Regions from separate parts of the Homo sapiens genome. Here all the other regions are reported to be linked to region 2. Evidence: microRNA targets listed by miRTarBase, many of them from high-throughput screens and not tested one by one. Region 2 holds a microRNA gene; each other region holds the end of a gene's coding sequence.

What was found. The annotated mature microRNA hsa-miR-551b-3p reads GCGACCCAUACUUGGUUUCAG and lies in region 2 at 2,319-2,339, opposite strand. An mRNA with a match to its seed (bases 2 to 7 or 8) in the 3' UTR can be bound and repressed. Matches are read on the target gene's strand: a 7mer-m8 pairs with bases 2 to 8, a 7mer-A1 pairs with bases 2 to 7 and ends in A, and an 8mer does both.
Region 1: miRTarBase lists AP5Z1 as a target of hsa-miR-551b-3p. Seed matches in the 3' UTR shown: 7mer-m8 at 853-859 and 7mer-m8 at 1,812-1,818.
Region 3: the mRNA of MAP3K21 is a reported target of hsa-miR-551b-3p. Seed matches in the 3' UTR shown: 8mer at 2,694-2,701.

Annotation. Positions count from the first base shown.
Region 1 is chr7:4,790,805-4,794,048 of GRCh38, forward strand. It overlaps AP5Z1 (adaptor related protein complex 5 subunit zeta 1), which reads left to right. Exons shown (of 17, transcript NM_014855.3): 16 at 1-83; 17 at 311-3,244. The coding sequence ends at 581. Among named protein-coding and RNA genes, the nearest start is that of MIR4656, 3.8 kb to the left of the region's middle. RefSeq lists a silencer at 1,430-1,549 and enhancers at 1,940-2,019, 2,124-2,798.
Region 2 is chr3:168,550,998-168,554,252 of GRCh38, reverse strand. MIR551B (microRNA 551b) reads right to left here and starts at 2,399; the gene lies at 2,304-2,399. It also overlaps the pseudogene EGFEM1P.
Region 3 is chr1:233,382,417-233,385,671 of GRCh38, reverse strand. It overlaps MAP3K21 (mitogen-activated protein kinase kinase kinase 21), which reads right to left. Exons shown (of 10, transcript NM_032435.3): 10 at 524-3,255. The coding sequence ends at 2,961. Among named protein-coding and RNA genes, the nearest start is that of MAP3K21, 56 kb to the right of the region's middle.

The sequences.
Region 1 (3,244 bases), not on the chromosome of region 2:
CCCAGGTGTCCCCCCCAGGTGGTCACCGTGCTGATGACCACGCTGACGAAGCTGGCCTCCCGGAGCCAAGATCTGATCCCCAGGTGCCTGGTCAGGGAGGGAGCGAAGCCTTCTGGCTCCTGGGGAAGAGAGGTGGCTTCTGAGGTCTTCCCATCCAGGTGTTGTGAAATGGTCGCAGCAGCGCAGGTCCTGGGTGGGCCCTGCTGAGCTAAAGCCACTCTGCTGGGCGCTTCAGGCCTGGCCCCTCCACACAGACCCCTGTCCTGGGAGGGGAGCATCTGCAGCTGACGGAGGGACCTTCTTTCCCCAGGGCCTCTTTATTGCTGTCAAAGATGAGGACCCTGGCTCACAGTCCAGCCACCAGCTCCACGCACAGCGAGGAGGGCGCGGAAGCCATCCGTACCCGGGCCACAGAGCTGCTGACCCTGCTGAAGATGCCTAGCGTGGCCCAGTTTGTGCTCACACCCAGCACGGAGGTGTGCAGCCCCCGCTATCACCGCGATGCCAACACGGCCCTGCCCCTGGCCCTGCGCACGGTCAGCCGGCTGGTGGAGAGGGAGGCCGGCCTCATGCCAGGGTGAAGGGACAGTGGCCAGGGACTTCGGTGCAGATTAAGAGCCTGGGCAGCCAGCTTGCTACTGAGGCCAGGCTGATAGGAGCTCAGGAGGGCGCGGGAGTCCTGGGAGAGGAGGCAAGGCCCACGGTGGGCTTGGCACCCTCACAGACACGCGGGGCTGGCCCCCCTGCTCACCCTCTGGGCTTTGTCTCCGAGCCTTTTGCTCCCAGGCAACACTGAGCTGAGCTGAGGGGTGCCATGGAGCGGCTCTGATTGGAGGCTTGAGGCCCTGTGGCTGGGTCGGGTGGAGGCTGCTGGGTCTGTTTCCTAGTCTTTTGTTTTTGGACAGTTGATGGGCAAGAAGAGCTGCAGTAAAAGTAAATCTCCTTTAATAAGCGTCTGTATGAAGAGTGCGCGATCAGTTCCGTTACCTGCCCTGCACCCTGGGGAGAGGACCAGGGATGGGAACCCCTGGCAGCTGCTGCCAGTCCTGGAGGCTCAGCCCGGCGTGCCACTGCTGCTACAGAAACCAGGTCATTTGTGCACAGCCCGGAAGGCAGCGGCGCGAGTTCCCGGGTGTGGTCACCGCTCTGGGTGGTGCGCTTGTCAATGCCCCTTTTGATGCCCTTGAATAGCCTGAAGATGAAGGGGACCGGGGGAGGGTTGCAAGCGCCATGGCCTATGCAGGCTGCGGCCTCTGGCCATTCGGAGGGAAGGCCCCAGGGAGCCACCTGAGTGGAGCTCAGAACACTGGATTCGCGCGAAGGGGAGGTGTCTGGGCGTGCGGCCCCAGCCCCGCCACCTTCCTGGGCCCTGTGGTCCCACCCTCCGGACTACCAAGGCACAGCTGTGTCGCACGTTCCGCCCGGTGCCTGGGACGGGCTCAGCCGCCAGGGGGCGCCGCCGCCCCGAGAGCCTCACGCCCCGCCCCCAGGCTCAAACTCTTCCCCCTCCCCACTCTGGCTCCGCCCCCGGTCTCCTCTTTTGCTCTGGCCCCGCCCACCTCCCCTCCGGCCTCGGCCCCGCCCCCAATCCCCCATAGCTCTGCGACTAAGAAACCACAGGCTGAAGGCGACTGCAGGGTCCTGCCCCTTGCCCAGCCTCAGGACTATGGAGGGGGCGAGTGACGCGCAAGGAACGGAGCAGGGGACACCGTGCGGGCTCAGGAGCTCCCCAGATGCCCGAGCCGAACCGCGGGGTCCTCACCGCCAGGTTCCAGCCCAGGAAGCGCTCGCCTGCCCCACAGCCTGGGCCTTGGGTCGCGTTCCGAGCTCCAGGACGGCTGGTGTCCCCCGCGGCCTGCGATGACAGCCCAGGGCCGCTGAGCCGGGGCCGCAGGAAAGGCTGGCGCTGGCAGGCGCTTCCGTCGGCAGCACTGTGTTTGTGTTTCCACGTGGAAACAGCAGCGCACGTGTACAACTGTGCATACCAAGGCGTGCGTGCCAGTGCGCGGGTCTCGGGATCACTTCCCAGTGCGGTGCACGACCCCGCCTGCAGCAGTGGGTGTGGGGGCGCTGCTGGGCTCATCCCGAAGCTCAGAGAGCGTGGGGCTGCCCCTAGGCTCGGAATGAGTCTCCCACTGAGTCCGCAGCTCCCCTCCTGCCCTGGGGCGGGGCTTCCCTGACCTGAAGGCGTCGGGGGTGTCCTGGCTCCCAGCTCCCAGGCACTCGTGGGGCCACCGCCCAGGCCAGCTGGTGCTAAGTCCGCAGCCTGTGCAGCAGCGCCCGGCTTAGGACTGGGAGTGTGACTTGAAGGGCCGTCCCGCTCATCCAAGGGACAAGGAGGAGCTCATGGCCACAGGGCCTCGGAGGGCATGACCCCAGCCCAGGGAGGAGCAACCTTCAGGTGGCCTCCAGGAGGCAGCTGGGAAAAGGGCAAAGCTCACCAGCTCTCAACTTTTTTTTTAAATAAACTGAAATTTTAGAATAGTTTTTCAGATTTACAGAAAAGATGATAAACCTTAGAAACATTATATGCTAAGTGAAAGTGAGAAGTGACAGCCTGCTGGCAGTCCTCACAGCCCTCGCTCGCTCTTGGCGCCTCCTCTGCCTGGGCTCCCACTTTGGCAGCACTTGAGGAGCCCTTCAGCCCGCCACTGCACTGTGGGAGCCCCTTTCAGGGCTGGCCAAGGCCGGAGCCGGCTCCCTCAGCTTGCGGGGAGGTGTGGAGGGAGAGGCGCGGTGGGAACCAGGGCTGCACGCGGTGCTTGCGGGCCAGCGCGAGTTCCGGGTGGGCGTGGGCTCTGTGGGCCCCGCACTCGGAGCCGCCGGCTAGCCCCGCCAGCCTGGGCAGTGAGGGGCTTAGCACCTGGACCAGCAGCTGCTGTGCTCGATTTCTCACTGGGCCTTAGCTGCCTTCCTGCGGGGCAGGGCTGGGGACCTGCAGCCCGCCATGCCTGAGCCTCCCCCCTCCCCTCCGTGGGTTCCTGCGCAGTCCGAGCCTCCCCAACGAGTGTTGCCACCTGCTCAGGGCACCCAGTCCCATCGACCACCCAAGGGCTGAGGAGTGCCTTTGGAGCAGGGCACGGGACTGGCAGGCAGCTCTACCTGCAGCCCCTGTGCAGGATCCACTGGGTGAAAGCCAGCTGGGCTCCTGAGTCTGGTGGGGACTTGGAGAACCTTTATGTCTAGCTAAGGGATTGTAAATAAACCAATTGGCACTCTGTATCTAGCTCAAGGTTTGTAAACA
Region 2 (3,255 bases):
AAAACTCCAAATGAATGATTTCTAAGGGTCCTTTTAACTTTAAAGTGCAGAGATTGGCTACTATGATCCACACTGATCTCTCCCTCATCTATACTCCTATTTTACATAATAGAGTTTAGCACTGATTTATTTTTAATTATTTCATAACTGCCAGTTTTGCCTTTCTATCAAGACTGTAGGATGGCTGAAGAGAGGAATCACCTCAAATCTTTTCTGTAACTTAAAGAATGGTTTATTTAATGCTGTCCAAGTAGTAACACTCAATAACTGTGGGATCACTTGGTAATTGGCCAGCTTTTAGCTTTCAGCAGAAATTTAATTTGTTTTCATAGAAAATAAAGTGGCAACCATATAAATTGTTTAAAACTTGGAGAATTGTTTTAGTTAACTCTCTATTTTGTGAGTAGTTTATTGTATAAGAATGCTATGGTTTGAATGTTTGTGTTGCCCCCAAAATTTGTATATTGAAATCCTAACCTCCAAGTTGATGGCATTAGGAGGGGAGGCCTTTGGGAGGTGATTAAGTCACGGGCACAGACACCTCAAGAATGGAATTAGTGCCACTATAAAAGAGGCCTGAAGGAGTTGCTTGCCCTCTCTATCACGTAAGGACAAAGTGAGAAGATATTATCTAGGAACCATGAAACAGGCCCTCATTGAACAATGAATCTGCTGGTGCCTTGTTCTTAGAAATCCCAGCCTCCAGAGTTGTGAGAAAAAAATTATATAAGCTATCCAATTTATGGTATTGTGTTTGGTTTAGTAGCAGCCTAAAAGTACTAAGTCAAAACACATGGTGATGTATTAAAACTGCTCTAAAATACATAAACTTAAGCTACTAACCAAAACCTAGCAAATTCATAAGAGAATTGATAAAGATGAATTTGGTAAACTTGTAATCTATAAAAAATTATCTAAATAACTAAAGTACTCTAGAACTATGCTCTACAATATAGTAGCCACTGATCACACGCTGCTATATAAATTTAAAAATTTAGTTCATTGGCCATTTTTCAAGTGCCTTGTGGCTAATGTCTGTCAAATTAGTGCAGATTGTAGGTCATTTCTGTCAACACAGAAAAATCTACCAGACAGCACTTCTTTAGAATGTCCAGGGAGAAGCTCTTTCATTGAGATAATTCAAAGAAAACCATGTTTATCCAATGCATTTTCCAAAAAAGGAAAAGCCTTGGCGAAGAATTTGGTTTATTCTTCTCAGAACCTAACAAAATGGGGAAATGTCCTTGATTAATTTTGTGTGTTTATAAATTAAGGTACCTTAAGTGGAACAAAGAAATACCATTTATAAATAGAAAATGTATTACAAATATGAAAGTCAATTAAGGAAATACAAAATAAATCTTTGGAAATGACTTTCATATTTTTCTCACAGCCTACCAAAATCCATGGCCAGGAGATATGTAATATATACTTGGCAGAACTTGCCTTTATAGCTTAATTTTCTGTGCCAAAGATACAGGCCTTCAGAATTCTTGTTGAGAAAATAAAAAGTAATTGTGAAATGGTTCCTCTGGCCTAAGGGATGACAACATACATCAACACCATTATACCCTCCCTACCCACCCACAAAAGTTTTTAAAGAGTATAGAACAAACAAACAAGCAAATACAACCTTAACCAACACCAGCTCAACAGATATAGTCTATAAATTAATTATCAGCAAAGGTACAAAGTATGCAATAAAGTACTTAACAATATACATTTTATTTACCTCAGTTTCTCTACTTCTCTACATCTTACCAGATGGGTTATTTGAAAGAACTCCAATCTCCTACACAAAAAAGCAGGACTCTGGCAGATTGCTAACTAGAGATTTTTGGCCCTATAGGCAAGCATCTGTGAGTGGGGCTGTGTGGGAAACAAAAATATGTTGGAAAAAGAGTTGATAGATGCCCCAGCATAAATGAGGACCCAGCAAAATCCATACTCCTGTCATGGCATCTCTGTCCATCCATTTCTGTTAGTTACCAAGGAACTAGCCCAGAGCAAGGGCAAATGGACCACAATAGCTGGAGAAGTGGGAGAAAAGGAGGTATACCTTGAAGGAGTAAACAGTTTTGGATTTGTACAATGTTTTAAAATCATTAACAGAGACATCAAATCATTAGCTGTCAACCTGGTTCAACTTACTTAGAATACGTGTTTTTTTTTTTTTAATCCCATTGGAACAGAAATGCAATATAATCATGAATTTCATCTCTTATTCTTTATGTCTATAATAAATTTTGTTTTTTCTCTGGAAGTCCTGCATAAACATAAATGGTATTCCCTCTAAATTGCAGTTATTCTCACAGCCTCTGAAACCAAGTATGGGTCGCCTTCCCGTTCTGCACCAGGTCTCACCCACGCTTGATTTCATGGGCCAGGAGAGCACATCTGGCAGATCTAACAGAGGTCTGAAGTCAGGACAGTTAGCTAGAAGGTGATAAAGGAGTAAAGCAAGAGAAGATACAATAAAATCTGTTGTATAAATAACATTTTATGTAAGAACCAGCAAATATAACTCAGGGGAAGACATTTTCAGTGCAATTTTCCATTCGGATTATCTGTACTGTATCCAAGATAATATGTAGCGACAGGTAAACATTCAACAATTCTTTCAAAATCTATTTTGTATATATTTCTTTACTGTCAATTTTCGATCATCTGGAAAATTCAACTATACAGTCTCACCCAGTGTACTTTACACCAATCGTTCTGGACTTAAATGTCTTTCTCCATCATCAAATTGTATTGACAAAGTATGCAGTTCAAGAAAGCCCTTCTAGTTTTTATGAGGTACCAAAAGGAAAATACATAAAATTACAATCTAAGATACCCTGACAACACAAAAATCCACAGAATTCTTTCTTGATACCTAAAACTTCGTATGACAAATTTGGTTTTATAAAATGTAGAGCTTTCAAAAAAAAAGCATACCATAACATTTTAAGAAATTCTAAAGTCTTGAGTAATTTGTTAATTTAGGATCTATAAATTTGTATCACAATTTTCCAACATTAAAAGAAAAATGAAAGCTAAGTAACAGACAAACCATGTTGGCATGATACTTTTAAATTTGCAAAATGCAATTATTGTCCATATAAGATTACCAAATAAAAACAAAATCAGAGTCATAGCATAGCAGAACTGAAAAATACCTCGAAATAAGCTCATAGCCTAATCCCAATAATTTAGAAATGGCAAAACAGGAGTTCTTGACCTTCATTTTAACCTGAGTTTGGAAATGCATCA
Region 3 (3,255 bases), not on the chromosome of region 2:
TACTTAACAGATATTCAATGCACATTACGTTTTGCTCCCTCCCATGTGGTGGGGTAATGCTATGATCTCCATGAAGTCCTGCGATCTGCTTTCCTCATTCACTCAAGCTTTTATCACTTAGTAAGAATTTCTACATGTTAAGTGGTGTTTGAAATTCCTCTGATTTAAACATAAAATTAAACAATAAAATCAACATGTCTCCTTAATCACTGAGATTTTTTTCTCATACTCATTTCACTCTGCAAAAGTGTGTCTTCTGAAAAGCTGGACTTGCAAAACGCTCACCATGAAATATAACTTTTCAATGCATATGTAAACCAAAAAAATTTGAAATAAAACATTTCATTCTACCTTTTTTGATGTATTTAATTGAATGACTCATTTAGTGATTTTCAGTTTAATATATTTAGCAGGTTAATACCTGGCTTATTAAACAATAATCTTTATTAACACAATTTTTCTTATTGAATACAAAATAAACCATTGCAAACTATAGTCACAATAATCAAGAGAGGATCAAAGCTACTGAGCAAATAGACCAGCTATAAAAGTTTATTAAAAAAATAGACAACATATGTAAACATATTTTTCAGTCACAAGGCTTCATAATACAGCACATTAGGCCCAGGCCTTAAATCTCTGCAGTGAGAGTACCTTAATTTTTTACTAACAGTAATTGACTTATCTTTCAGTGAACATTAAGCCTACACAAAAATAAATAACCAGATTCTGCTAAGTTTACTAACACAGAAAATTGCAAATGTACAATAGATTGCAGCAAAAGTTAACTATCTGCAGTAACATGTGAGATTGAATTGTTATATTACAATTATTTTAATACAGCTTCATTTTGAAATTCATCATAATGTAGAGTTGACTAAAATAAAGCTAAAGGGGAATAATAACAGAGATAAACAAACACCCAGATCACATACACTCCCCAACACACACATGCAAACACACATTTACTAATATGCATGCACACACACACACGCCAACATACATGCACACACATACAGGGATGTTTTGGTAGAAGTAAAACTGAGGACATAGTTTCCATCCTTTTTCTTTCATGTATTGATGATTTTAGGTATATATTTCTCTACCCTTAAGCTGGAAGCTACGTGTTCCAAAAGGACTGAACACAAAGCAATCATAGTTTCAAATGTGATAACATTTTGGGAAAACCAAATCTCTGTTACATAATTCAATAACCACACAAAGTGAAGCCGAATCATAGAACAGATGATAAAACAAGAAAACGTATTAAGTATCTGAGACTTTGCTGCAAGAATCCAGAATGCAAGATCGTTTTCCTTAGGGCAAAACTTACCATGTTAATACAATCCTTTCATACTGTTTCTCATCTGCTGGATATACCTGTTAGGCAACCACAATGCTGCAAAATTGCCAAATAATATGATTTTCCTTTTCTTCTATTATAGGTGAGATATTTTATCACACAATTGAATTTATTTTAAATTGCTGACATTTCAGTTATTCAGTAAACCTTAAGCAAGGTGCAATTTTAAATGAAATATCAAGCAATGTTTTTAATTTAGTTTTTCATTGTTTGGAAAAATTTAAATGTCGATTGTCTGTCTTCTGAAGAGCCACATTCTAGAGACAGAAGGGAAGCACAATACATTTAACATAAGAAACCAAGGCAAATTTACCAAGCTCTCGGGTAGCCATTTCTGCACCAATAACTCTGGATTTGTATCATATATGTATGACCATAAAAGTGATTCATAGATAATTTTATTATTTAAATCCTGATCTGCTATTCAAAGATCCATTTCTGAAAATAATTCATAATATAGTTGTCGTTTCCACCATATGAGCTTATTTCAACAGATGTCTAACATTTATCCACAATTAAATGAAATGTGAAATAACAACAACATACTTAACTTCTAATAGTACTGTACTGCTGTTCCTTGAGTTGTCAGTGTCTTTGGGATTATTAGGATAATTATGCACTCAAATAGAGAAAATAAAATTAAGACACATGACTGTTTACAGTACATGATATCTGTGAAGAGCTAGGTATCTGTAACAATTTTTAAAAGTTCTACTGGAGAATGAAAAAGCTTTCCACTTCTGAATATCAAATAAAGGGCTACTGATGGAGGAAGAATGTTTTCTATAGGAAAAACCTAAAGATTAGCCTCACTCAAGGGGCACACCATGTGGTCTCAGTCAAATGGCAAGGACTGAACTTTGAACATCTATTTTGGAGTTCTAATGAATAAAATGCTTATAACTTATATTCAGTAAAGCTTTTATAAGTTACATTCCGTATAATTTCCTCAGAGAGAAATATCATTGCATAATTTAAGTGAGAACTGGACATATGCATTATCGGCCCACAGCCAAGGTTAGGTAGTTTAAACAGGACTTTATATCTATTCCAGTCGTCAGACTTTTAAGACCTTTACTTACTAATATCACATTATTCTTGCCAAGAAACTAAAGCTCTTTCTTGGCTTTTTGTTGCAAAAATGACAATTAAGAAAAGAAACTACAAGAAAAAAAAACAAGAAACAAGACAAGAAAAAGGAAAGAAAGGAAAAAAGAAAAAAAAGGAAGGAAAGAAACAAAAATAGTGAAGCTCATTACAATTTCTGTTGTGTGCAAATGGACAAAGGCATAAATGAGAACAAAAACATTAACATTGTGCTGAAGGTAATTCGACCCAGCATAGTTTTCATTGGTGCACATCTCTTGTTTTACACTTTTGTGTATTCCAAGTTATAAGAAAAGAATCCAGAGGAAAAACAATAGACATGGCTAACAGCAATCATATACATTTTTTGAGAAGCTGGATATATCTTACTAATTTAGGAACATGGCCACAGCTTTTGAAAACACAGCAGCATGAAACAGTTCAAAGGTAGATACATTGTGTTCATTTGTTCACCTTAAAAAAATGCTTAAACAACAGTAAGGCACTTAGTTTAAGACAGGAATTCTTTCTCCAGTTCATATATAGATGGCCGGCTGGTTTTGCTCCTCATTCTGCACAGTGGCACAGTGTAGTCCCTGCTCTGACCTTCCACGTCAGCATCCAGTAATGAAGGCACATGGGATTTAGTTCTCTCCTTGGCAGCGAGGAATTGGGTGGGATGTGGTCCTGGGCGACCCACTACACAGGCAGTCTGTGCCAGCTGAGACACTGCTGTCTGTGGGTAAGCCTGAGGCAGATCTGAGCGGCTTCTCAGGGAGGCAGGGCGACGCTGAGGCACGATGTGG